Homo sapiens: one gene and its partners. The protein of the gene in region 1 purifies or fractionates together with the protein of each later gene. This does not show direct contact. Each region holds a gene or a part of one and is shown in the gene's direction. Other genes may lie near its edges. The genes, in order: COPS3, CUL4B, DDB2 and BTBD2.

Region 1 (7,024 bases):
TAGTAGAGACAGGGTCTCACCATGTTGCTCAGACTGGTCTCAAACTCCTGGCCTTAAGCAGTCCTCCTGCCTCAGCCTCCCAAAGTGCTTGGATTACGGGCATGAGCCACTGTCCTGGCCTAGTTCTTAATTCTAAAAAATACTGTTGCTCATTTAATTTTACAGAGTATTGGAGGCAGGATGGATTTCTTGCATACATTGTTTCTGTATTTTATCCCATGAACTATCAGGGTAATTTGATTCTTTTCTCCTTATTCTAGGTTTGTGAAGTTTTCTATGCCCAGTGTTCCTGACTTCGAAACGCTATTCTCACAGGTTCAGCTCTTCATCAGCACTTGTAATGGGGAGCACATTCGATATGCAACAGACACTTGTAAGCTAAATAACATTTTATTCTCCATTGAAAATATTTTGCCCTTGTGGTTATATTTATATTTTGAATATTTTGTTATTGTATCTAGTTGCTGGGCTTTGCCATCAGCTAACAAATGCACTTGTGGAAAGAAAACAGGTAAGAAATACTATTCAAGTATTCCTAGTTTTGTTATAATATGTAACTAGCTTACACAATGAATTACTTTATCAAGATTCCAGTTAGTACTGAGCATCCACCACCTAGATATCTGTGGTCACTTGAGAGCACTCACAGCCATTGCTGTAAGCTCAGGCAGTCCCCGCATCCCCTGAATGAGGTGGAGGCACGGGGTGGTTTGGCACCTCAGGGAGGCTGCTGCTGGAACTACCAAGTAGTTGGAATTACCAAGCCAGTACCCTTTATGTTGTAATATGCTGGGTTTTGTCTGTTACATTTTTTCTTTTAACTTTTAATTAGGACATTATTTTAGCCTTACAAAAAGCTTCAAAAATAATATAAAAAATTCTCATACATTTTACCTAGATTTTCCAAATGTTAACATTTTACCGCACTTATTCTTTTTTTTTTCTCTTCCTCTTTTATTCTGAGCCATTGTAGAGTAAGTTGCACATATGCTATTGCTGTTCTTTATCCCTAAATACTTCAGTGGGTAAAGCCTAAAAATTAGGACATTCTGTTACATAGTATAGTGTAATGGTCAGCATCCAGAAATGAACTCTTACTGTTTTTTTTTTTGGAGACAGAGTCTCGCTCTGATGCCTAGGCTGGAGTGCAGTGGCGCCATCTCTGGTCACTGCAACCTCCACCTCCCAGGTTCAAGCAATTCTTCTGCCTCAGCCTCCTGAGTAGCTGGGGACTACAGGTGCATGCTGCCACGCCCAGCTAATTTTTTGTATTTTAGTAGAGACGGGGTTTCACCATGTTGCCAGGCTGGTCTCGAACTCCTGAGCTCAGGCAATCCTCCCGCCTTGGCCTCCCAAAGTGCCAGGATTACAGGCGTGAGCCACCACGCCCGGCCCAGAAATGAACGTTAATATAATGCATCAACAAATTGACAGACCCCATTTAGATTTTCCCCCAGTGAAAAGGACTGTCTTTTGCTATAAAAGGACATTAGCTGTTTGGACAGTGTACTATATATTATATAGCAAAAGAAAACCGTGGACCATGGATTGCATTAGACTGCTTTGTTTCTTTAGTGTCCCTTAATCTGAACAGTTATTTCATTCTTTATCTTTTATAATACATAATTTATAATGTGGATTTTTAAAAAATTTATTTAGTTATTTATTTTTTTGAAATGGAGTCTCATTCTGTTGCCTAGGCTGGAGTGCAGTGGTGTGATCTCAGCTCACTGCAACCTCCACCTTCCAGCTTCAGGCGATTCTCGTGCCTCAGCCTCCTGAGTAGCTGGGACTACAGGCGCATGTCACCTTTCCCAGCTGATTTTTGTTTTGTTTTGTTTTTTGAGACAGAGTCTCGCTCTGTCACCCAGGCTGGAGTGCAATGGCGCAATCTCGGCTCACTGCAACTTCCGCCTCCTGGGTTCAAGCAGTTCTTCTGCCTCAGCCTCCCAAGTAGCTGGGATTACAGGTGCCTGACACCATGCCCGGCTAATTTTTGTATTTTTAGTAGAGACAGGGTTTCACCATGTTTGCCAGGCTGGTGTCAAACTCCTGACCACAGGCGATCCGCCTGCCTCGGCCTCCCAGTGATTTTTGTATTTTTAATAGAGGTGAGGTTTTGCCATGTTGGCCAGGCTAGCCTCTAGAACTCCTGACCTCTGGTGATCCGCCTGCTTCAGCCTCCCAAAGGGCTGAGATTACAGGTGTGAGCCACTTCACCCAGCCAGGTGTTTCTTTTTAATTTGAAAGTAAATTTAAGATTAGTGGTTTGAAAGAGGCTGAAAATAGAACCAGTTGTTATTTTGTAGTACTAAGTAACCATGTTTGAAAGAGATGGTTAAGAAAAATCATGAGTTTTTGAAAAAGCTGTAAGTTATTGAGCTATTTTTAGTCTCTTCACATATATATATATATATTTTTGTTGTTGTTGTTGTTGTTGTTGTTTTTTTGAGATGGGGTCTTGCTCTGTTGCCCAGGCTGGAGTGCAGTGGCGCGATCTCAGCTCACTGCAACCTCCGCCTCCCGGGTTCAAGCGATTCTCCTGCCTCAGCCTCCTGAGTAGCTGGGACCACAGGCACATCCCACCATGCCCGGCTAATTTTTGTATTTTTAGTAGACATGGGGTTTTGCCATGTTGGCCAGGATAATCTTGATCTCCTGACCTCATGATCCACCCATCTTGGCCTCCCAAAATGCTGGGATTACAGGTGTGAGCCACCGTGCCCAGCAATTTTGGAAGAGACTATATTTTAGTCTGCCAAAAACTGATTATGCCTTACTTGACACTTGGTCTTCTTATTTATAATCAGGGCAGGAAACAGTCCTTTTGAAATCTATGGTGTTAGTTTTGGTAGTAATTTACTACCAGGTAAGGGGTAGACTGCCCTATGGGAAAATGCCAACACCCTTAGCCACAAGTAATTTTCCTAAGCATAGGCTGTTGTCTCTTGTATAATAAGTGATTTGGAAAGTTTTCATTTGTTTAGATGTTAATATAATAAACTGTTGAGAAAGTAATACTGTTTTTGATTATTGATCTTCATTGTAAAAATAAAAGCTTTTTATGATTTAAAAAATGGTGCTGAGTTATCTAAAAATTCCAAGAAACAGCTTAAGAAAAGTTTTCTGACTTAAATGGGACAGAAATTTCCTGAAAGAGTATGGAAACCTCATATTGCTATTTAAAGGAACCTATCAATTAGTGTTATTTTTTATTTATAAGTGACAACATAAGATCCAATGTGCTGCCATCTTTGAGAACTTATCTGAAAGAGATGTCATTTCTGACAGCCCCTGCGAGGAATTGGCATCCTTAAGCAAGCCATAGACAAGATGCAGATGAATACAAACCAGCTGACCTCAATACATGCTGATCTCTGCCAGGTAAGCAACCAAAGTGTGTGATTCACACCAAGTCAGAGGTGTAGGTTGTTTATGGGCTTGCTCAACATTGGGTTTGATAAACACAGGCAAGTTGGCGATATTGTGATGTGTTATAGAAGTTGGAATATGTAGGTACATCTATTACATTCAGGCGGGTGCTGGATGCAAACTGTAGGATGGGGCTCAACTAGTAAGCTTGTCGAACAGATAGGGTAATTAATAGTTGTAACTTTTTTTTTTTTTTTTTTTGAGACAGTCTCACTTTGTCGCCCATGCTGGAGTGCAGTGGCACAATCTCAGCTCACTGCAACCTCTGCCTCCCGGGTTCAAGCAATTCTCCTGCCTCAGCCTCTCGCGTAGCTGAGACTACAAGCACCCACCACCAAGCCTAGCTAATTTTTGTATTTTTAGTAGAACAGGGTTTCACCATGTTGGCCAGGCTGGCGTTGAACTCCTGACCTCATGATCCACCCGCCTCAGCCTCCCAAAGTGCTAGGATTACAGGTGTGAGCCACCACACCCGGCCCTAGTTGTAACTTTTTTTTTTTTTTTTTTTTGAGACGGAGTCTTGCTCTGTCGCCCAGGCTGGCGCCATCTCAGCTCACTGCAAGCTCCGCCTCCCGGGTTCACGCCATTCTCCCGCCTCAGCCTCCCGAGTAGCTGGGACTACAGGCGCCCGCTATCACGCCTGGCTAATTTTTTTGTATTTTTAGTAGACACGGGGTTTTACTGTGTTAGCCAGAATGGTCTCAATCTCCTGACGTCGTGATCCGCTCGCCTCAGCCTCCCAAAGTGCTGGGATTACAGGCGTGAGCCACTGTGCCCGGCCTGTAACTTTTTTTAAAATCCCGAATCATTTTTTTAAAATTGTGGAGCCTGCCAGGTGCAGTGGTTCACGCCTGTAATCCCAACACTTTGGGAGGCTGAGGCGGGCGGATCACCTGAGGTCCGGAGTTCCAGACCAGCCTGACCAACATGGAGAAATCCCATCTCTACTAAAAAAAAATTGTGGAACCTGAGACTTAACATAGCTAACTTCTTACACCTTAAAATGTTATTCATTTATCTTTTTTTTTTTTATTTTTTGAGATGGAGTCTTGCTCTGTTGCCCAGGCTGGAGTGCAGTGGCATGATCTAGGCTCACTGCAAGCTCCGCCTCCCAGGTTCAAGCAATTCTCCTTCCTCAGCCTCCTGAGTAGCTGGGATTGTGGACGTGCACCACTACACCCGGCTAATTTTTGTATTTTTAGTAGAGATGGGGTTTCACCATTTTGGTCAGGCTGGTCTTGAACTCCTGACTTCAAGCGATCCGCCCACCTCAGCCTCCCAAAGTGCTGGGATTACAGGTGTGAACCACCGTGCCTGGCCTCATTTATTTATCTTATTTTGCGATGTTCAAAGTCCAGAAGGCAAAAGGGCAGGTATATAATGAAGTCTCCTTCCCATTCTGTTTGCTAGCCATCTATTTCTTCTCTACAAAGGAAACTATGTTAGTTATTTCTCGTGTATCCTTCCAAAAACTTTTTATGGACATAAAAGCAAATACGAATATATATTTTCTCATTTTTTACACAAATTGTAATAATCTATGCATACTCTTATGTAGCTTGCTTTTTGTATTTAACATATCTTGGAGATGATTCTGTAGCAGTACTCTACAGGTACGGAGTATTCTATAATATGAGTATGCGATGGTTTTAGAAGTCTGCATGGGATATTTACATTGTTTCCTTCAAGAATAACATGGTATGTGGATTATTTCAAACACATGTTCTAGTTTCATATGAAGATGTGCTTTTTAATGTTTTAAAAAAATTGTGATTGAGGTACAACATATAGACAGTAAAATACTAAAGTGTATAGCTCAGTGAGTTTGTACGCATGTCTACACTGCGTCTCCATTAGCTAGATAACTGTTCTAAGGGCTTGCTTTCTTGAGTTGCACAATTCCCTGTATTTACCTAAAGGATTAATTAAAGGAACCACTTCTACTTGTATCACACCATGCTGGTCTCTTTCTATTCCACTAGTTCAGTAAAGAAAGAGGACACACTCTTTTTCCCTCTAATCAGATGGGTAGGGATAGGTTAAGAGATAAGTGAGTCTTGTCTGTAGAGTTCTCTATTCTCAATCATCTATAGCATGCTTGGCCTTATAGCTGTTTAGCTTTTTATAAAGAAATGCTCCCCCAGGTGAGGTGGCTCACGCCTGTAATCCTAGCACATTCGGAGGCCAAGGTGGACGGATCACTTGAGGTCAGGAGTTCGAGACCAGCCTGGCTAATGTGGTGAAACCCTGTCTCTACTAAAAATACAAAAATTAGCTGGGTGTGGTGGTGCACGCCTGTAATCCCAGCTACTCGGGAGGCTAATGCAGGAGAATCACTTGAACCCGGGAGGTGGAGGTTGCAGTGAGCTGAGATGACGCCACTGCACTCCAGCCTGTGTGACAGAGTGAGACTCCATTTCAAAAAAAAAAAAAAAGGTAATGCTGTTTTTTTCTGAATGGCTAAGAAAATGGAGTACAGGTTGACTATTCCTAATCTGAAAATTTGAAACCCAATCCAAAAATTTGAAACCCAAAATGCTCCAAAATCTGAAATCTTTAGAATGCCAACTTGGCACTCAAAGTGCTCATTGGAGCAATTGGATTTCAGGTTTTCAGATTAGGGATGCTTAACTGGTATGTATTCTGCAAATATTCCAAAATTTGAAACACTTGTGGTCCTAAGCATTTCAGATAGCAGATACATGAAATGTGTTGACATTTAGATAATTTTAGTCAATAAAATGTAAAACACAATTACATTATTTGGAAATTTCTGGAATCAATGAATTTTCTCCTTCTGCTAATACCTGCCTAAGTAAAATTAAAGTGATGATTTAATATCAATTTGTTCACAGCTTTGTTTGCTAGCAAAATGCTTTAAGCCTGCCCTTCCATATCTTGACGTGGATATGATGGATATCTGTAAAGAGAATGGAGCCTATGATGCAAAACACTTTTTATGTTACTATTATTATGGAGGGATGATCTATACTGGGCTGAAGAACTTTGAAAGAGCTCTCTACTTTTATGAACAGGTAATCTCTCTAAAAATTAGCTGAGGTTGTTCTGAACTTGTGTGATCAAAAAAGTGCTCCCATAGGTTTGTGGCTAGAGTGGTCTGATCCCAGGGCCTCCGTTTCAGGTGTTGGTCCTTTCAGAGACTACTTCTCTGTGATCATGTAAATAGTGGTAACCTGATCCCTAAGTTGAGGAGCAGCGCCAGTGCATAGAAGAGCACTTGTCTGGGGGTTCTAATCTAGGCTTGCACTTATACCTTATCTGATTTGGAATAAGTTATGACATCTCTTGACCTTTATAGCTTCCTTTGCATATAAGGAAGAGATTGAACTGAGTGATCTTGGTTGTGTCTTATTCTAAAACCATGTGTGGTATTTTGTTAAGTTTTATTTAATCAGTGAAACATTCTCTTGATTCAAAATTTAAAGGGTAGAAAGGAGTACACAGTAAAAGTCCCTCCCACCCTTTCTGTGTCTGTGTAATGAAACATAGTACACAATTTGGTAGAATATTCTGGAGGTTTACTCAGACTCTGAAAAAGAGATACACAATATTGATTAATAAACCACTTTAC
Region 2 (7,024 bases), on another chromosome or scaffold:
CGACATATGTGCCTATGGAAGTTCATTTACCACCAGAGGTAAGAGTTACTGTTTAGAACTGAGTTATAGGCATAGAAATCATAGCATTTCCATTTTGCTTGTCATTTAAAAATAGATACTTAGAAAAAAATAGAGACCCAGGGTCTCGCTGTATTGCTCAGGCTGGTCTTGAACTCTTGGGCTCAAGTGATCCCCCCCGCCTCAGCCTTCCGAAGTGCTGGGATTACAGGTGTAAGTCACCAGGCTTGGCATGGATACTTTTAAAAGTGTATGTCAGTAAGCGCACCAACACCAAATACCAACTGCTTTAATGTTTTACTTTTGTACTTAGAAGTCCAGTTAAGCACATAGCTAATAATGCCAAATTTCTGGGTTCAGGGTCAATTTCCCTGGCTCTTCTTCCATCTTCCCAGGTTATACCCCTCACTCTACCTAGCTATTAAGAATTCTTGCACATATTTCACCCATAGGTGGGATTGCTAAATGATGGGTCCTTGATTAAATCTATCCTGACTCCTGGTAAACTGTCTAGTCCAGGACTGAAGCCCATAAAAGGGATTAAGGCTAGACAGATAGATATTGAGAATCCTCCATGGAGATGATTATGAAGGCCCAGGGAGTAGATTTCTCTCAAAGAGGAAGAAAAAACAGCAGAGGCAGAACTTTAGAAAAGGCTCACATTTGGCAGATGGTAGAAAGAGGAACCTGTGAAGGAAACCAATGCAGAAGCAACAGTGAAATAAAGGAAGCAGCATAGTGCAGAGGCACAAAAGCTGCTGCAGGTGAATGTTTCAAAAGAGGGGATGATTAAATGTTCAGAGAGAGCAAAAGGTATAAATCCTAATAAATCCCATTTGATTTGGTGGTTGGGAGATCATTGTTTTTCATCAAAGTGATTGGTGGACCTACTGGATATAGTCTTAAAATTTTCCAGAAACTATATCACATGAGGTAAGTATAAAAATGGTAAATGTGGTATTGGATACAGAGCTTAAATAAAGCCTTATTTTATTTACTTTAGATGGTAAAACTTCAGGAGATTTTCAAGACATTTTACCTAGGCAAACATAGTGGCAGGAAACTTCAGTGGCAGTCAACCCTAGGACACTGTGTGTTAAAAGCAGAATTTAAAGAGGTAAGTGGATGTTCCCAAAACTTTTAGTTTTCATCTTTATCTTTAATGTTTAGGTCATCCTTCTTAACTGAAAGTTTAGGCTATTGTTTTTTGTTTTCTTCTTTTTTTTTTTTTTTTTTTTTTTTGAGACAGAGTCTCACTCTGTCACCAGAGTGGAGTGCAGTGGCGCTATCTTGGCTCACCGCAACCTCTGCCTCCTGGGTTCAGGTGATTCTCCTGCCTCAGCCTCCCGAGTGGCTGGGACTACAGGCGTGCGCCACCATACCCAGCTAATTTTTTTTGTATTTTTAGTGGAGACGGGGTTTCACCATGTTGGCCAGGATGGTCTCTGTCTCTTGACCTTGTGATCCACGCGCCTCGGCCTCCTAAAGTGCTGGGATTACAGGTGTGAACCACCGCATCTGGCCAGTTTAAGCTGTTGTTTTATAATTGTATCCTAGATATCCGCATGATGACAGTGATAGTTTGTCATAGCTTTATGTATTTTTAAGTAATTTTAGGTGTGTGGTCTTTCCACGATTGATTTGGCCCTTCTGCAAAATGAAAAGCAGTGAACTTTCCCCCTACCCTTTCCTCACCTGTGGATGAAAACTGTACACTGCCACTTCCTATTTTTATTTATTTGTTTATTTTTAGAGATAGGGTCCCACTCTGTCACCCAGGCAGGAGTACAGTGGCACAATCATAGTTCACTGTAACCTCAAACTCATGGGCTCAAGCTATCCCCCTGCCTCCGCTTCCTAAAGTGCTGGGATTACAGGCATGAGCAACTACACTTAGTCTAACACTGCCACTTCTTGACAGAAATCTTGTTGCTGGGAGCTACGAATAGAGTGGGAGTTAAGGGAAACAGTGTGCAATATCTAATCTCAAAAAACTTTAGCTTTTCATGACTAATCTGAGCCAAACAAATCAAAAATACATTTGAAATAGTGATTTCTTGCTGCTTGTGATGAATATCTAGAATGACACATAAGGCTGATTAATTTTCATTACTGTATTCTATTTATAAGGCTTAAAAAAAAACTGTTAAAAGGTCAGCTAATCCTTCCCCCTATTTTAGGTAGGGTCACACCTAAACCTCACACTGAAATACTGTATTACCACGTCAAGTGGCTTTGCTGGATAATGCTAATCATGTTTCTAAATCCACTAATTGAAAAATGCTTTTCCTATAAGAGATGATTAATTTTTCATGTGTTTTTAAAAAAGTGATGACTAAACACTTTTATTTCTTCAACAGGGTAAAAAGGAACTCCAGGTCTCTCTTTTTCAAACACTGGTGCTGCTAATGTTTAATGAGGGAGAGGAGTTCAGTTTAGAAGAGATCAAGCAGGCAACTGGAATAGGTTTGTAGCAAACATTAATTGTTCACTATGTGCACACCACTATGTTAAGAGGTCTGGGGGACATATTTATAGGAATAATTCCTTGCCTCAGAACTGTTTTGAGTTTTTTTTTTCTTTTTTTTTAATGAGACAGGGTCTCACTCTGTCACCCAGGCTGGGGTCCAGTGGTACAATCATGGCTCAGGCTCAAGTGATTCTCCTGCCTCAGCCTGCCAAGCAGATGGGACTACAAGTGCATGCCACCGTGCCTGGCTAATTTTTAAAATTTTTTTTTGTAGAGACAGGGTCTCACTATGTTGCTTAGCCTGGTCTCAAACTCCTGGGCTCAAGGGGTCTTCCTGCCTCAGCCTCCCTAAGTACTGCAATTACAGGCATGAGCCCCTGCAGCCAGCCAGAACTCTTTTTTTTTCCCCTCAAGACGGAATCTTGCTCTGTCACCCAGGCTGGAGTGCAGTGGCGCGATCTCGGCTCACTGCAACCTCTGCCTCCTGTGTTCAAGCAATTCTCCTGCCTCTGCCTCCCGAGTAGCTGGGATTACAGGCGCCTGCCACCACACCTGGCTAATGTTTGTATTTTTAGTAGAGACGGGGTTTCACCATGTTGGCCAGGCTGGTCTCGAACTCCTGACCTCGTGATCCGCCTGCCTCGGCCTACCAAAGTGCTGGGATTACAGGTGTGAGCCACCGCGCCTGGCCAGAACTCTTTATATAACCATAGGGAAAGGGGGAAATGACACTTGAAATAATGTCAAAACCCATAAGTACTGGCTTGTGGTACTGACTATAAGTGTGGTAAGAGTGCAACAAAGCAAGAGATCACCGTGGACTGGCACAATTGGGAAAGCTGTCATGAAGCAAGTGGCATTTGAGCTGGGCCTTCAAGTTTTGGTCAGGGAGAAGGCATATACAGCAAGGGGAAATATTTTGAGATGAGGTTGGGAGGTAGGAATGGGCACAGTATAGGCCCATGAAGAGCTTAATTGTAGCATAGAATCATGAAGAATCATGAAGAGCTTAATTGTAACATAGAATAGTGAGTTAAAAAATTAGGTAAGATGAGTAGGGCCTGATTGTGGAGAACCTGATAAGTCTAGCAAATGAAACCTACACTGTAGTGTCTCAACTATGTGGCATGGTGGAAGTAATTATTTGGACCACTTACTGAAATCAATCTACAGGGCAACTGGAAGGATCAAGGGATTCCAGTTTAGATGCTATTGGGATGATTCAGGCATAAAGTAGAAGGGACTTAGACTAGAATGAGACCATGAAAATGGAGAAAACTCATCTCTGCGGAAGCAGCGGCTAGCTATTATGTTGAGGATGAAGGAGAAGGAAAAGTTAAAAGATGATTTTAGGGTTTCCCAACTGAGAAGGTTAGTGGTATCACCACTGACAATTGGAAAGAGGACACAGTTATATGGAGATGATGAATCAAATTTTGGACGTAACTACAGTTGATAGTAAAACAGCCAGGCGGAATTGCCCTTTAAACGTGCAACTGGAGAGAAGTGAAATGTCATTTTGGAATATTTGGTAGTTGCCCACATGGTATGATAATTGACGTCTTTAAAAGAGGACTAGGGGCCGGGCGTGGTGGCTCACATCTGTAATCCCAGCACTTTGGGAGGCCAAGGCGGGTGGATCACTTGAGCTCAGGAGTTTGAGACCAGCCTGGGCAACATGGTGAAACCCCGCCTCTATTTTTTTTAAAAAAGAAGAGGACTAGGAAAAAAGCCATTGGCTAGAACAAAGAAAAGTTGTTGGTGACCTTTGGGAAAAAATGAAATAGTTTTAATAGGGGGATGGAGTGGAAGCTAGATTGAGGTAGAATGTCGTAGTTGTTCATGCTGGTAACAAATAACTAAACCTCTGTTTCTTCTTCAGAGGATGGAGAGTTAAGGAGAACACTGCAGTCATTAGCCTGTGGCAAAGCTAGAGTTCTGGCGAAAAATCCAAAGGGCAAAGACATTGAAGATGGTGACAAGTTCATTTGTAATGATGATTTCAAACATAAACTTTTCAGGATAAAGATCAATCAAATCCAGATGAAAGAAACGGTATTTCTTTCACTTTCTCTTAGTCCTAACACACTGGAATTATACATGTTAATAATCAAAATATATAAAGATTTTTATACCTGTAATACTGCCAATACCATTAATATTTTTTGTGTCTATGTCCAGCTAAATATGTTTCCTGATTTGATTTTGGGTGTTTGGGAGAGTGGTTGTACAGGATTGAGATGATACTCAACATAGTTTCATATCTTACTTTGTTTATTTAGTATTCAATCTTTAGAATTTTTCCATGCCATTAAATAGCTTCGAAAAATGGCAGATGGCAGTGTAATATTTTTACATGGCTCTTATAGTTTGTTCAACCACTGTTCATTTTGGGGCAATTAAATTCATGACTTATTAGTATTATAAATAAGATTGCAAGAAACCTCTTTGAAACTAAATTTTAATCTCTGATATATGATAAATTTGTGGAAGTAGATTTTTTTGGGTTAAAGGGTATGAACATTTTAGGAGTCTTAGTACATAATGTCATATTGTGTTCCGGAAAGGCTGGACCAGTTTATACTCTGTCCAGCAGCATATGAGAGCCTGTCTTACTATGTCCCCCAGCACTAAAGATTATATTTTCTTTTGCCAACTTGCTTGGTGAAAAATCTGAATTGATTTATTCACTATTTATTTGATTAACAGTGAAGGTGGGCCAGGTACGGTGGTTCACACCTGTAATCCCAGTACCTTGGGAGGCCGAGGCGGGCAGATCACCTGAGGTCAGGAGTTCAAAACCAGCTTGGCCAACATGGCGATACCCTGTCTCTACTAAAAATACAAAAATCAGCTGGGCGTGGTGGTGCGTGCTTGTAGTCCCAGCTACTTGGGAGGCTGAGGCATGAGAATCACCTGAACCCGGGATGTGGAGGTTGCAGTGAGCTGAGATCGCGCCACTGCACTGCAGCCTGGGTGACAGTGAGACTCTGTTTAAAAAAAAGAAAAAAAAAACAAAAACAGGGAAGGTGAATATTTTGTTTGTTTTTGCCATTTGAATTTGTAAGAGACTTCCAACTGCAGCATCCTGAAACTGATGGTTTCAGTTCCAATAAGGTTTAATGCAATATTTGAAAAAAAAAAAATTTTTTTTTTGAGGTGGAGTCTCACTCTGTCACCCAGGCTGGAGTCAGTGGCACGATCTTGGCTCACTGCAGCCTCCGCCTTCCAGGTTCAAGCGATTATCCTGCCTCAGCCTCCTGAGTAGCTGGGACTACATGCGTGAGCGACCATGCCCGGCTAATTTTTGTATTTTAAGTAGAGATGGGTTTTCACCATATTGACCAGGCAGGTCTTGAACTCCTGACCTCATGATCCGCCCATCTCGGCCTCCCAAAGTGCTGGAATTATAGGTGTGAGCCACTGAGCCCGACTGAAAAAATTTTAATGTAGGACAGCGACCAGTATCTCCAAACAAGTTCCTGTCATTTTCACATACACATCAAAGACAGGATATTTTCTTAAAGGATTACCATGTCCTTACTTTTAAAACATTTATGCTGTACCAGGAAGAAACTGCTGCAAAAAGGCCAAACTGTTTTTTTGGTTTAATTACTAAAGATGAACATTTTTACTTTAGCATCAAGATTGGTAAACCGCCTCCTAAATACCTACATTTCTGTAAGTCTTGAAGGATTGTAAGCACTAATGGCATGCATGTCTGATTTATATATTACAAAATAAAAATTAATTTTCAAAGAGGTTGACTCTTAACTAGTTTGCTTAGCCAGTTAATACCATGCCTTGAGTCAGAGATCAGACAGAGTCACCTTATAGACAAGCTATTGTCATAGAGAAATCTGGTTAACAATCCATTGAAACTGATACACACATTTAGAAGATATATCAAAGACAGAGTAAAAAAACAAAATGGTAAATTCCACATCAGCTATCTCTACTTCTAGAAAAGCAATTCAAAGATGATGTTTTTCTATTAACTAATATTAGCATTACTTCATTGGTATAGGGCAATATAATCAGAACAGAAAGGAGTTATGTTTGTAGGATTTTTCTCTGTCAGCATCTATATTTATAAGACCCCATTTAGATAATTCAGTACCTTTAAAGCAATAACAATGTCATGTCCCTAAAATGCACAATTTATGTAAATAGTCAGGTTTTGCTTCTGGTATAATTCCTAGGTTTAAAACTTTTTTGTTAGGTTGAAGAACAAGCAAGCACTACAGAAAGAGTATTTCAAGACAGACAGTATCAAATTGATGCTGCAATTGTTCGAATTATGAAGATGAGAAAGACACTTAGCCACAATCTCCTTGTTTCAGAAGTGTACAACCAGTTGAAATTTCCAGTAAAGGTAGGTACTTCTGTGTTTTCCTATTGAGCGTGTTATAAATAAAAGAAAGTACATTAGATTTTCAGACACAAATCTTGCAAACATAAAGCGTCATGACCATTTAGAGAGAGAAAAGTTTTAATTTCCCATGTTGATGCATATGATTTCCAAAAAAAAAAACT
Region 3 (7,024 bases), on another chromosome or scaffold:
TCACTTCTATGCTGTAGCCACACCAGCTGTTTCTATTCCTGAAACCGGGTCTCTGTAATTGCTGTTCCCTTTGACTGGAGTGCTTTTCCCCCATGGTCTTCTCATGGCTGGCGTCTTCTCTGCAGGTCTTTGCTGATTCTACCTCTTCAAAGAGGCTTTCGCTGGTTGTCCTTACTCATAACGTAGATCCCACTCCTCCACCGTCATTCCCTGTATCATTACCCTGCTTCATGTTTCCCCCAAGTGTTGATGGGTGTCTGAGATCTGATGCTTATTTGTATGTTTGCCCACTGATGGCAGGGACCTTTCCTTTCTGGTTCACCATCCTATTCCCAGTGCCTGGAACAAAGTTTGGCCTAGAGTAGCTGCTTTATATTTGTTGAATGAGTGAGGGGCTTGAAGTGTAATTGAGCAGATGGGATGTATACATACGAGGTAATTAACAATACAGATGCCAAGTGCTACAGAATGTGAAAGAAGGAAGAACCCCTTGTGAATTGGAGTCAATAAAGAAGACTCCATGGATGAGCGAGGAGGAGCAGTATTAGATAAATGGAGAGAAAAGAAGGAAAGACATAGTGTGACTGGGTGAGGTTTGGCACAGAGTTCTTGGGAATGGTCTTTGTTGTGCTAGAGTTTATCATCCATTGCTGAGGGGTGAGTGTGTCGTCCCCTCTAGGACCTTTAGCCAGCCCAGCTGGTGGCTGACATTGGAGGGCTGTGCTGTGAAAAGTGACACTGGGTTTAGAGCAGGAGTCACAAACTTATAGGGCTCCAGAAGCCAGAGTGGAAAAAAAAAAAAAAAGAATGTATGGTGGTAGGGTCAGGGGTAAACTAGAGATGACTGTTGTGCAAAAATGTAGGTCTTTTGATATCAGATGTGATTTTTCTCAAACAAAGACACAAATCCTCATTTTTTAAATGTCATATATCTTGAGTTTTAAAAAAAATTGTAAAATACACGTAACATAAAATGTATCACCTTAACCATTTAAAAGTGTTTTTTTTTTGAGGCGGACTCTCGCTCTGTCACCCAGGCTGGAGTGCAGTGGCGCAATCTTGGCTCACTGCAAGCTCCGCCTCCCGGATTCATGCCATTCTCCTGCCTCAGCCTCCCCAGCAGCTGGGACTGCAGGTGCATGCTGCCACGCCTGGCTAATTTTTGTATTTTTAGTAGAGATGGGGTTTCACCGTGTTAGCCACGATGGTCTCTATCTCCTGACCTTGTGATCTGCCTGCCTCGGCCTCCCAAAGTGCTGGGATTACAGGCGTGAGCCACCGCCCCCAGCCAACTTTTTAAAAAATAATGATAAAATACATATAACATGAAATTTACTTTCGTAACCATTTTAAAGTGCACAGTTCAATGGCGTTGGGTAAATTGTGTAAGCAGTCTCCAGAACTTCATTATTTTTTTTTATTTTTATTTTTTGAGTCTCATTCTGTCACCCAGGCTGGAGTGCAGTGACACAACCATAGCTCACTGCAGCCTCCACCTTCCTGACTCAAGGAATCCTCCGGCTTCAGCCTCCCATGTATCAGGGACTACAGGTACGCACCACCATGCCTGGCTAATTTTTAGAGATGTGGTCTCTCTATATTGCCCAGGCTGGTCTCAAACTACTGGCCTCAAGCAATCCTTCTGTCTTGTCTTCCCAAATTGCTCGGGATTACAGGGCTGAGCCACTGTGCTGGGCCTCTAGAACGTCTTAATATTGGCACTGAATGAAACTAAACACACGTCTCAGCCGAATTCTGCTTCAGTCCACTATTTTTCTAGCTCTGGTTTAAAGGTAGACATGAGGGGGAACCCAGGAGGAGGTCTCTTTATTTATTTATTTGTTTATTTTTTTGAGATGGAGTCTCACTCCGCCGCCCAGGCTGGAGTGCAGTGGCGCAATCTCGGCTCACTGCAAGCTCCGCCTCCCAGGTTCACGCGATTCTCCTGCCTCAGCCTCCGAAGTAGCTGGGACTACTGGTGCCCGCCACCACACCCGGCTACTTTTTTTATATTTTTTAGTGGAGATGGGGTTTCACCGTGTTAGCCATGATGGTCTCGATCTCCTGACCTCGTGATCCGCCCGCCTCGACCTCCCAAAGTGCTGGGATTACAGGCGTGAGCCACTGCACCCAGCCAGCAGGAGGTCTCTTAAGTGGAGGGATTTGGAGAGCAGACCACCAGAAAAGGCCAGGTTAGACAGGTGTGGGAGACTGGAATTCAAAGTGTGAGATGGGTGTTCAAGGAACAAGTGCCAGAAGCCCCCAGAAAGGCAGTCAGAGGAGTGCCGCGGACAGAGTGGGGTAGGTTTCCTGCCCAGCTAAAGAGGCAGGTGACCGCTAATAAGGCAGCTTGAAGTTGAAGTCAGAACCCAGAGCTCAGACAGGAAGAAATTTGTTTTCTTGTTTTCTCCAGGAGTCTAGGACATGGGAATAGAGGAATTTAGCTTATGCCTGGAGATGGGAAGAAGCAGTGTAGGGTATTCTAGGGGAAGAGCTTCCTGACTAACAGGATAATGACAAGTGCTTTGAACTTGTGCCAGACTGAGATTGCTTTTTTTCTTTGTTGCATCACCTTATGACATGCGTGTAACCTTCTTTACAGTGTAAACTTTCTTTACACTGTAATGAAGATTGGTCTAGGCATTGAATTTTGTGGCTTGCATTTGCAGGGAGCTAGGTTGGAGCAGAGGAAGGGTATGGCAGTCTGGAAGAGACCTGTCTGGTTTTACTCCCAGATGCTGACAGCAGAATGCTGATTTGAGACCAGTTACTGGAGGAGCAACAGTGCCTCATTTTGTCACTTCTTTAGTCATCTGACCTTGGCTGTGACCTTTACATTCTTCAGGCCCTTGGCAAGGGAACATGTATTACAGTTTCACAATGAAGATAGCTTAATTTTATTCCTATTATAAAAACAATGTATGGGGCCAGGCGCAGTGGCCCACGCCTGTAATCCCAGCACTTTGGGAGGCCGAGGCGGGTGGATCACCTGAGGTCAGGAGTTCCGAGACCAGCCTGACCAACACATAGTGAAACCCTGTCTCTACTAAAAATACAAAAATTAGCCGGGAGTAGTGGTGCACGTCTGTAGTTCCAGCTACTCAGGAATCTGAGGCAGGAGAATCACTTGAACCTGGGAGGTGGAGGTTGCAGTGAGCTGAGATGGTGCCACTGCACTCCAGCCTGGGCGACACAGTGAGACTCCATCTCTCAAAAAACAAAACAGTGTATTCTTATCATAAAATACAGAGAAAAGTGTAAAAAATAAATTAAATATGATCCAAAATCCCCATTTTCAGCATCCCTCTGTGCATGTGTACACTATTTTTTTTTTTTTCCAAGTCTGAGTCTTGCTCTGTCGCTCAGGCTGGAGTGCAGTGGTGCGATCTCACCTCACTGCAACCTCCGCCTCCTGGGTTCAAGCTATTCTCCTTCCTCAGCCTCCCGAGTAGCTGGGATTACAGGCATGCACCACCACACCAGCTAATTTTTGTTTTGTTTTGTTTTTTTAAGACAGAGTTTCACTCTATTGCCCAGGCTGGAGTGCAGTAGCACGATCTCGGCCCACTGCAACCTCTGCCTCCTGAGTTGAAATGATTCTCCTGCCTCAGCCTCCTGAGTAGCTGGGATTACAGGAGCCTACCACCATGCCCAGCTAATTTTTGTATTTTTAGTAGAGACGGGGTTTCACCGTGTTGGCCAGGCTCGTCTTGAACTCCTGGCCTAAGGTGATCCACCTGCCTTGGCCTCCCAAAGTGCTGGCATTACAGGTGTGAGCCACCGTGCCCAGCCTGAATTTTATATTTTTGGTAGAAACAGGGTTTCACCATATTGGCCAGGCTGGTCTCGAACTCCTGACCTCAAGTGATCCGCCCGCCTCGGCCTCCCAAAATGCTGGGATTACAGGCACGAGCCACTGCACCCGGCCTGGGTTTTTAAAATTATATCTTTATTGAGGTATAGTGGACATAAACTGCAGCTATTTCAAGTGTACAATTTGGCTATTCTCAGCCTATGGGGTAGTCCTACTCCAGAGAAGCAGTAAGAAAAAAAGAATAAATTGTACAATTCCATGAGTTTTGACATATGTGTACAACTGTGAAGCCATCACCACAATTAAAATAACTCCCATTTCCCCACCCTTTGTTGAATATTTGGAGAGTGATAGATAGATGAGTTATCTATGCCCCTTTGTAATCCACCCCTCTCTACCCAATATCTTATTCACTGTAAACTGCTGATCTATTTTTTATTTTTAGAAATTAATTTACATTTTCTAGAACTATATATAAATAGAATCATAGAATATATGGTCTTTTATTTTTGTTCTAGCTTGTTTCAGTATAATTATTTGAAATTTATCTACATTTTTATGTGTAGTTTTTTTTTTCTTTCTGAATAATGGTTCATTGTTTTTTGTTTTAAGACAGGGTCTTGCTGTGTCACCCAGGGATGATCATGGTTCAGCATAGCCTCAACCTCCTCAGCTCAAGCGATTCTCCCACCTCAGCCTCCTGAGTAGCTGGCACTACATGCACAGGCCACCATACCTGGCTAATTTTAAAATTTTGTTATAGAGACAGAGGTCTCACTGTGTTGCACAGGCTGGTTTCAAACTCCTGGCCTCAAGCTATCCTCCTGCCTTAGCCTCCCAAAGTGCCGGGATTATAGGCGTGAGCCCCTGCACCCAGCCACATTGTACTGATATGATACAGTTTATTCATTTACCTGTTCAAGGACATTTGAATTTTTTTCTAGTTTTTGAATGCAACATATAAAGCGACTGTGAACATTCACGTACAAGTATTTGTGTGGATATATGTTTTCATTTTTCTTGGGTAAATACTTAGCAGTGGAATGGCTGGATTATAGAGTAGGAATGTTTTAAAGATACTTTTTAAATGAGAAAAGGTTTTTCTATTTGCCCACATATTGTCATTTCCAGTGCTTTCATTCTTTCATGTGATCCAGATTTCCTTTTGGTAATATTTTCTTTCTGCCTGAAGAAATTCCTTTCATATTTCTTATAATGCAGATTGGTGATAAATACTTTCCACTGTTGTTTATCTAGAAAAGTATTTTGCCTTTATTTTGAGGGAGGATGTTTTTGCTAAGTATAGAATTCTAGGTTCACAGTTTTTAAAATTATTTAACTTTTATTTTTTAATTGGTAAATTAAAATTGTATTTTATTGCATACAATATATTTGTTCACAGTTTTCTCCTGTCAGTACTTTAAAGATGATGTCTAGGCTGGGCGCTGTGGCTTACGCCTGTAATCCCAGCATTTTGGGGGGCCAAGGCAAGTGGATCATTTGCGATCATGAGTTTTAGACCAGCCTGGCTAACATGGTGAAACCCCGCCTCTACTAAAAATACAAAAATTAGCTGGGTGTGGTGGCGCTCACCAGTAATCCCAGCTACCCGGGAGGCTGAGGCATGAGAATCTTGAACCTGGGAGGCAGAGGTTGCAGTGAGCCGAGATGGTGTCACTGCACTCCATTCTGGGTGACAGAGCAAGACTGTGTCTCAAAAATAAATAAATAAGGCTGGGCGCGGTGGCTGACACCTGTAATCCCAGCGCTTTGGGAGGCCGAGGCAGGCGGATCACGAGATCAAGAGATTGAGACCACCCTGGCTAACACGGTGAAACCCTGTCTGTTCTAAAAATACAAAAAAAATTAGCCAGGCGTGGTGGTGGGCGCCTGTAGTCCCAGCTACTTGGGAGGCTGAGGCAGGAGAATGGTGTGAACCCAGGAGGCAGAGCTGGCAGTGAGCCGAGATCGGCCACTTCACTCCAGCCTGGGTGACAGAGCAAGACTCCGTCTAAAATAAATAAATAAATAAAGAATAAAAATAAAGATGATTTCTAGTTGGGCTCAATGGTTCATGCCTGTAATCTCAACACTTTGAGAGGCTGAGGCTGGGGGACCTCTTGAGGCCAGGACTTTAAGACCAGCCTAGGAAACACAGCAAGACCCCATCTCTACAAAAAAATCTTAAAAATTAGCTAGTGGCTTGAACTTGTAGTTCCAGCTGTTCAGGAGGCTGAGGTGGGAGAATTGCTTAAGCCCAGGGGGACAAGGCTTCAGTGAGCTAGGCAAGCCTGGGTGACAGAGCAAGATCCTGTCTCAATTAAAAACAAAACAAAACAAAACATCCTGATGAGAAGTCTGCTACTATCCTTATGTTCCTGTCTATGTAATTTTTCTTCTGGTCGCTTTAAAAATGATTATGATGTGCTTGTGGGGGGATCACTAAGCTTCTTTGATTTATGGATTTTTTTTTTCTTTTGAGACAAAGTCTCACTCTGTCGCCCAGGCTGGTGTGCAGTGCCACAATCTCGGCTCACTGCAACCTCCACCTCCAGGGTTCAAGCGATTCTCCCTGCCTCAGCCTCCCGAGTAGCTGGGATTACAGGTGCCCACCACCTCACCTGGCTAATTTTTGTATTTATTTATTTTTATTTTATTTTTTTAGTAGAGACAGGGTTTCACCATGTTGGCCAGGCTGGTCTTGAACTCCTGACCTCCAGTGATCCGCCCACCTTGGCCTCCTGAAGTGCTGGGATTACAGGCGTGAGCCACCTTGCCCAGCCCATTATTTCTTACAAAGAGTTCAAAATGAAGAAAAAGAACAGTTCTTTTTTTCTTGGGACTGCGATTACATATGGTCCTGCAGGTGGTTGATGCACTGTTCATTTTTGTCTTTTTCCCTGTTTCATTTTGTGCAGTTGTTCACTGATCTTTACTTCTGTAATATCTAACCTTCTGCTGTCAATCCCTCCCTCCCTCCCTCCCTTCGTTCCTTTCTCTCTCTTCTCTTCCTCTTCCTTTTCTCTTCTCTTTCTTGCCTGTGCAGAGCAGGGCTGCTCCATAGGCAAAGTAGCCCAGCGTATTTTTCATTTCAGATACTGTATATCCCCTCTAGAAGTTTAATTTGGATTTTTTTTCATGTCTTCCATTTCTCTCCTCATATTTATTATTTCCTCTTCTTTCTTTTTTGAGATGAGGTCTCACTCTCTC
Region 4 (7,717 bases), on another chromosome or scaffold:
GCAAGCTCCGCCTCCTGAGTTCTTGATATTCTCCTGCCTCAGCCTCCCGAGTAGCTGGGACTACAGGCGCCCACCACCACGCCCGGCTAATATTTTGTATTTTTAGTAGAGACGGGGTTTCACCGTGTTAGCCAGGATGGTCTTGAACACCGTCTCCCGGGTTCAAGCGATTCTCCTGCTTCAGCCTCTCAAAGTGCTAGGATTACAGGTGTGAGCCACCACGCCTGGCCGCGAGAGACTCTTTAAAAAAAAAAAAATTAGTCATGGTGGTGCGCGCCTGTGGTCCCAGCTACTCAGGAGGCTGAGGCGGGAGGATCACTTGAGCCCAGGAGGTGGAGGCTGCAGTGAGCTGTGACCGCACCATTGCAGTCCAGCCCTGGAAGATAGAGCGAGACTTTGCAGAAAAAAGAAGGAAGGAAGGAAGGAAGGAAGGAAAAAAGAAAGAAAGAAAGGAACAAGAAAGAAAGCAAGCCAGCCAAAGAAAGAAAGCCAGCCAGCCTGAGTGTCCTGGAGTCAGAGAAGAGGAAAGGGGACCGTGGGAGGGAAGAAATGACATCCCACCCTCCTGGCCAAGGATGGTTCTATTATGTGAACTGCACACTTCTCTGGAAATGAATGGAAATCCAGCAATCAGCTTGGTGACGAGCGCCCTCTAGACGCCATCACCGCATAGACAGGGCTGGGATTGGTTCCAGAAACCCGGGGAAAACTCAAAAACGCTCAAAACGCACTGCCAGGGGCAGGTGTTGGCTCAATAGCCAGCAAAAAAAAAAAAAAAAAAAAAAAAAAAAAAAAAAGCACTGACAAAGGACAAAAAGGCTCCGCAAGCTTCCCTTGCCAGCCCTAGGGCTGAGGTGGACTCATGTTTCTGCCTTCATAGATAATCTCCATCCGTAATATGTTTAGGTCTAGTGAGAGGTATGGTTTACTTACAGCGAATGCACAAATCTTAAGCGTAGTTTGGTTAATTTAGGCAAATGCATGAACCTGTATCACTCACACCCCTCTCAAAATCACATGGGCCGGGTGCGGTGGCTCCCGCCTGTAATCCCAGTATTTTGGGAGGCCAAGATGGGCAGATCAGGAGGTCAGGAGATCGAGACCATCCTGGCTAACACGGTGAAACTCCGTCTCTACTAAAAATACAAAAAAATTAGCCGGGCGTGGTGGCAGGCGCCTGTAGTCCCAGCTACTTGGGAGGCTGAGGCAGAAGAATGGTGTTAACCCGGGAGGCAGAGCTTGCAGTGAGCCGAGATCGCGCCACTGCACTCCAGCTTGGGCGACAGAGCAAGACTCTGTCTCAAGAAAAAAAAAAAAAAAAAAAAAATCTCCACATGGCCGAGTGGTTCACACCTGTAATCCCAGCGTTTTGGGAGGCCTAGCGAGAAGATTGCTTGAGCCTAGGAGTTCATGAGCAGCCTGGGCGACAAAGTGAGATCCCGTGTGTGTGTGTGCCTGTGTGTGCGCGCACGCGTGCGTGTGTGTTAGGCAGGGCCTCACTTTGTCGCCCAGGCTGGAGTGCAGTGGCACAATCTCAGCCTCCCCAGCTGTAGCCATCCTCCCACTTCAGCCTCCCAAAAGCTGGGACTACCGGCACACACCAGAACACCTTGTTAATTTTGTATTTTTTTGTGGAGACAGGGTTTCACTATGTTGGCCAGGCTGGTCTCGAACTCCTGAACTCAAGTAATCTGCCTGCCTCGGCCTCCGAAAGTGCTGGGATTACAGGCGTGAGCTACCATGGCTGGCCTACAGCTCTTTAAAAAAAAAAAAGTCCAGGCGCGGTGGCTCACATCTGTAATCCCAGCACTTTAGGAGGCCGAGGTGGGCGGATCACGAGGTCAGGAGATAGAGACCATCCTGGCTAACACGATGAAACCCCGACTCTACTAAAAATACAAAAAAAAAAAAAAAATTAGCCGGGCATGGTGGCAGGCGCCTGTAGTCCCAGCTACTCGGGGGGCTGAGGCAGGAGAATGGCATGAACCTGGAAGGCAGAGCTTACAGTGAGCCGAGATTGCACCACTGCACTCTGGCCTGGGTGGCAGAACGAGACTCCATCTCAAAAAAAAAAAAAAAAAAAAAAAAAAAAAAAATCGTGAACATCTCAGCATTCCGTAAAGTTCACCCTTTCCTCAGACAACCTACCATTTTGTTAATTTCTGTCACCATGGCAGGTATGCCTGTTCTGCACCTTCATCTAGAAGGGACTGCACAGATGTCCTCTTTAGGATTTGGCTGGAAAGATGTCACTTTGCAAATGTATGAGATGAGAGATAAGAAAGTTGACATTTAGAGGCCGGCTGTGATGGCTCCCGCCTGTAATCCCAGCACTTGGGGAGGCCAAGGCAGGCGGATCACCTGAGGTCGGGAGTTCGAGACCAGCCTGACCAACATGGAGAAACCCCGTCTCTACTAAAAATACAAAATTAGCCGGGCGTGGTGGTGCATGTAATCCCAGCTACTCAGGAGGCTGAGGCAGGAGAATCGCTTGAATCCGGGAGGCGGAGGTTGTGGTGAGCTGAGATCGTGCCACTGCACTCCAGCCTGGGCGACAGAGCAAGACTGTCTCAAAAAAAAAAAAAAAAAAAAAAAAAAATATATATATATATATATATATGTATATACATACACACACACACATATAAAATTAGCCAGGCATGGTGGCAGGCGCCTGTAGTTCCAGCTACTCGGGAGGCTGAGGCAGGAGAATGGCGTGAATCTGGGAGGCGGAGCTTACAGTGAGCCAAGATCGCGCCACTGCACTCCAGCCTGGGCGACAGAACGAGACTGTCTCAAAAACAAAACAAACAAACAAAAAAAAATTAGCCTTAGCCAGGCGTGGTGGCGGGTACCTGTAACCCCAGCTACTCAGGAGGCTGAGGCGGGAGAATTGCTTGAACCAGGAGGCTGAGATTGCAGTGAGCCAAGATCGCCATCACTGCACCCCAGCCTGGGCAATAGAGGGAGACTCTAAAAAGAAAAAAGAAAAAAGAAAAAAAAATTGTAACTACCTCAACCACCCACTCTGGAGAACTGAAAATAGCATTATCACTTGGGTTTTTTTAATACCCTATTTTCTTTTTCTTCTTTGTTTTTTTTTTTTTTCGAGACAGGATCTTGCTCTGTTGCCCAGGCTGGAGGGCAGTGGTGGAGTCATAGCTCATCAAAAGCTCAACCTTCCAGGCTCAAGTGATGCTTCCGTCTCAGCCTTCTGAGTAGCTGGGACAACAGGTGCGTACCACCACGCCTAGTTTTTTTTTTGTTTTGTTTTGTTTGTTTGTTTGTTTGTTTGAGACGGAGTTTTGTTCTTGTTGTTCAGGCTGGAGTGCAATGGCGCGGTCTCGGCTCACTGCAACCTCCGCCTCCCAGGTTCAAGTGATTCTCCTGCCTCAGCCTCCCGAGTAGCTGGGATTACAGGCACCCGCCACCAAGCCTGGCTAATTTTCGTATTTTTAGTAGAGATGGGGTTTCACCATGATGGGGTTTCACCAGGATGGTCTCGATCTCCCGACCTGGTGATCCGCCCGCCTCGGCCTCCCAAAGTGCTGGGATTACAGACGTGAGCCACCGCGCCTGGCTAATTTTTGTATTTTTTGTAGAGACAGGGTTTTGCCATGTTGCCCAGGCTGGTCTCCAACTCTTGACCTTAGGTGATGCACCCCCCGCCTTGGCCTCCTGAAGTGCTGGGATTACAGGCGTGAGCCACTGCGCCCGACCTGGTTCCTCAATCTTTGTGGCATTTGTCTACCTTGACATTATGTATGTAGTAAGCGTTTTGGGGGAGTCCCAGCTCCGTCCACACTGACCACCCCCCACACCTGGCCTGGAGAGGGTGCTGGGCGTCTGCTGAGTGTCAGTGCACGTGGCCTGCATCCTGCTCGCTCATCCGCAGCTTCCCGGCCTCAGGCTATGTCTCTGTACAGCGGAGCCTGCGCCACGGAGCAGGCCCGCCACCTGGGTCCGGGGTCTGGGGTCTGGAGTTTGCGCTTGGTCTTTGGGTTGGGGGTTCCGGGTCTGAGGTATGGGATCTGGAATCCGGAGTCTGAAGTCTGGGGTTCAGAGTCTGGGATCTAGGATTCAAGGTCTGAGGCCTGGGATCCCGGACTGAGGTCTGTGCTCCAGGGTTTAGGATTCCCGGTCTGGAGTCTGGGGCCTGGTGCCTGGACCCCAAATTCTGGACCTCGGTCTGGAGTCTGGGCTTCAGGTCAGGATGCTTAGGGAGTGGAGCAAGAGGTCTTCCACCAGCTCCTCCCCTCTACAGGCCCCTCCTACTCTTCCCTCTCCTCCCCGTCCCCTCCCCTGCAACAGCCTCCCCCATTCACCTCCCTTCTCCCCTCCCTCCTCCCCTCCCACCTCCCCTCCTTTCCCCTCCCTCTCCTCCCCTCCCTCCTTCCCCCTCCTTTCCCCTCCCTCTCCTCCCCTCCCTCCTTCCCCCTCCTTTCCCCTCCCTCTCCTCCCCTCCCTCCTTCCCCCTCCTTTCCCCTCCCTCTCCTCCCCTCCCTCCTTCCCCCTCCTTTCCCCTCCCTCTCCTCCCCTCCCTCCTTCCCGCTTCCCCTCCCCTCCCTCCTCCCCTCCTTTCCCCTCCCTCCTCTTTTCCCCTCCCCTCCCTCCTCCCCCTCCTCCCCCTACTCTCCTCCTTTCCCCTCCCTCCTTCCCTCCTCCCCTCCCTCCTTCCCTCCTCCCCTCCCCCGCCCACGCCGCAGCCACAAAATGGCGGCGGGTGGGAGCGGCGGGCGTGCGTCGTGCCCGCCGGGGGTCGGGGTCGGCCCGGGCACGGGGGGCAGTCCCGGGCCCAGCGCCAACGCCGCCGCCACCCCGGCCCCCGGCAACGCGGCCGCCGCCGCCGCCGCCGCCGCCGCCGCCGCCGCCGCCCCTGGGCCGACGCCGCCCGCCCCGCCGGGCCCCGGGACAGACGCGCAGGCCGCGGGCGCGGAGCGGGCGGAGGAGGCGGCGGGCCCGGGGGCGGCGGCGCTGCAGCGCGAGGCCGCGTACAACTGGCAGGCCAGCAAGCCCACCGTGCAGGAGCGCTTCGCCTTCCTCTTCAACAACGAGGTGCTGTGCGACGTGCACTTCCTGGTGGGCAAGGGGCTCAGCTCGCAGCGCATCCCCGCGCACAGGTGGGCGCCCCGACCCCGCCAGCCCTGGCCCCGACCCACCCAGCCTGCTGCCCGGGCCCTGCACCTGAGGCCCTGCACCCCTCTGTCCCCGAGACCCCCGCACCCCTCCATCCCCGAGCCCTGCACCCCTCTGTCCCCGGGACCCCTGCACCCCTGCATCCTCAGGCTCCGAACCCAACTCGGCCTGCACCCCGGGGCCTGCACCTGAGGCCCTGCACCCCTCTGTCCCTGGGACCCCTGCACCCCTCCGGTCCTGAAACCGACCCGGCCTGCACCCCGGGGCCTGCACCCTTCCATCCCTAGACTCCACCCAGTTCCCTGGGCTCTGCACCCCTCTGTCCCTGCCTCTGCACCTCTCTGTCCCCAGACCCCACCAGGCCTGCACTCTGGGCCTCTGCACCCCTCCATCCCCAGGCCCCCCTGGATCCTCCACCTCTGGCTTGCGCCCCCAGCCTGTTCCCCGGGATCCCAGGCCCTGTACCCCTGGGACCCCTGCTCTCCTCCGTCCCTGGACCCACCCAGCCTGCACTCCGGTACCCTCCGTTCCTGGGACCCTCCAACTCGGCCTGCACTTGGAGCCCCTGGGCCCCTCCATCCTCAAACCCCACCCAGCCCGCACCCCAGAACCCTGAATACCCCATCCTCAGGGCCCTCCACCCCCCGCCTGCACCCTAGGACCCTCCATTCTTCCATCCCCAGGACGCTCCATCCCTGGACCTCACCCCTCCCTGCACCCCAGGTCCCCAGACACCTCTGCCCCCAGATCCCTGGGCCCCTCCACCTCCGGCTGGAACCCCTGCCTACACCCCAGGCCCCTCCATCCCTGGACCCCACCTGGCCTGCATCCCTGGGTCCCCTCCATGCCCTGGCCCTGCACCCCCACCCACCACCCCTGGGACTCCTGTGACCCTCCAACCCTGGGACGTGTACCCCTATCTGCTCCTCCATTCCCAGGACCCCAACCCACTGTTTCTAGGACCCATGACCCCACATGCCACACCCCTCCATCCCTATACCCGGGGATCCTCAGGACCCCTCCATCCCCAGGCCCTGCACCCTTGCCTGCCGCCCCTCTCCCCCTGGGACCCCTACTGGTGACCCCTCCGTCCCTGTACCCAGGGACTCTCCAGGACCCCTCCTTCCCCAGGTCCTTCACCCCTGCCCACTGCCCTTCCACTCTCTACTCCCGGGGCCCCCTGGGACCCCACTACACTCAAGTGTGTCACCCCTGCATCCCAGGATGGAGAGACTTCTCCGCTCTCACCTGAGACCCCCCGTCCCCAGTCCTCACCACCTCAGTCCGTAACCCCCAACCTATGACTCCTGAACTCCAGGACCCCTCCCTTCAGGGGTCGTGCTATTTCCTCCACCCCCACCCATGACCACAAGACCCCTCCCTCTTCCCCCACCATCCAGGGACCCTGCCACTCCCACCCGCACCCCTGTGCGCCAAGACCCCTAGGCCTTGCTCCCTGCGTCCTCCCTGCTGCCTCCAGACCCAGTGACCCCCACCGGAGACCCCCAGGCTCAGCACATGATCTGGATCAGAGACCTTCAAACCATGCTGCTCCCCTCCAGGGATACCCCCTGCCCGCCCTGCAGTCCAGATCATAGACTACCATCCACAGCCCCTCCAGCCCCGGACCCCCACCTCAGCCAGAGACCCCTGGGCCCTGCCACCTCCCACTTCAGTGACCACCCACCTCCAGCTCCGCCACTGCCAGGCTCTGGACCCTGGACTCTGCAGAAGGTTGTCTCCCCTGGGCCCTGCTACCCCCTGCACCCCATCCTATGATCCCCTGCCACCAGGCCACCACCCTAGACCCCTGCCCAGACTCCCATCTCCGGGCCCTTCCAACCCAGAGACCCCCAGCTCCGGGGTCCCTCCCTCCCCAGCCCCCAGCCCTCCTTTCTGGGAAAGAAGTGGGTTTGGCCCAGTATCTGTCTTTGCCAGTGTGCGGGGTACCGGCCCCAGGCCCCAGGTTCCCTCCACTCCCCGGTCCCTCTTACCCTGCCCCTCATTGGTCGGGGGCAGGGGCTGGGTTTTCTTGCTGCGGGCACTGGAGGGGGAGGGTCCTGCCCTCCCTTCTGACCTTCGGGTGCTTTTGTTAACGTGTTCTGGCTTCTTCCTGGGTGTTTATGGGCAGCTGGGTCTCCTTTCGTGGGGTCCTGCCCTGGGCGGTACTTAGCAGAGGTTCCTGCCCCTGGAGGGTTCCGGGGCCTCCTACGGCTTGTGCCGTCCGTGTCGCCGTCCCTGTCTCTGTCGTCCTTAGCTGCTGGGCCTCTCCTAGCTTGGAGTGAGGGGCGGTGGGTTTGCTCCCTCCACCTGGGTGGTCTTTGTGCTCTTTGGGGAGGGGGTAGGTTGGATGCAGCTGGAACTCACCCAGCAGCAGGTGCAGCTGGAGAATCCCAGGCTTTCTGTTTGAGGGGGGAGGTGGGGCGCCCCGGGCACCGGCTGACCTTGGGACATGTATGCGATTGCACTTGAGGGACCGCTGGCTCGGTTGCAAAGTGGGGAAGATGGAGGCAGGACAAGGACCCCTTGGAGAAAAGTAGGTGAGGGGTCTGCCCCCGGGGGGCTCAGGAGAGGGCAATGA

Evidence for each region.
Region 2: the proteins of COPS3 (region 1) and CUL4B purify together in Homo sapiens (affinity purification with mass spectrometry; 13 studies listed by BioGRID and IntAct, with this or other methods). This does not show direct contact.
Region 3: the proteins of COPS3 (region 1) and DDB2 purify together in Homo sapiens (affinity purification with mass spectrometry; 7 studies listed by BioGRID and IntAct, with this or other methods). This does not show direct contact.
Region 4: the proteins of COPS3 (region 1) and BTBD2 purify together in Homo sapiens (affinity purification with mass spectrometry; 5 studies listed by BioGRID and IntAct, with this or other methods). This does not show direct contact.

The regions. Positions count from the first base shown.
Region 1 is NC_000017.11:17,264,245-17,271,268, reverse strand, and holds part of COPS3 (COP9 signalosome complex subunit 3), read left to right. Parts: intron 1-260; coding exon 261-373; intron 374-461; coding exon 462-511; intron 512-3,223; exon of another isoform or gene 3,224-3,291; coding exon 3,292-3,384; intron 3,385-6,287; coding exon 6,288-6,467; intron 6,468-7,024. UniProt on the Homo sapiens protein: Component of the COP9 signalosome complex (CSN), a complex involved in various cellular and developmental processes.
Region 2 is NC_000023.11:120,529,941-120,536,964, reverse strand, and holds part of CUL4B (cullin-4B), read left to right. Parts: coding exon 1-38; intron 39-1,021; coding exon 1,022-1,135; intron 1,136-2,378; coding exon 2,379-2,484; intron 2,485-4,370; coding exon 4,371-4,543; intron 4,544-6,710; coding exon 6,711-6,863; intron 6,864-7,024.
Region 3 is NC_000011.10:47,217,953-47,224,976, forward strand, and holds part of DDB2 (DNA damage-binding protein 2), read left to right. Parts: intron 1-7,024.
Region 4 is NC_000019.10:2,012,700-2,020,416, reverse strand, and holds the start of BTBD2 (BTB/POZ domain-containing protein 2), read left to right. Parts: upstream 1-4,702; 5' UTR 4,703-4,713; coding exon 4,714-5,120; intron 5,121-6,698; exon of another isoform or gene 6,699-6,870; intron 6,871-7,717.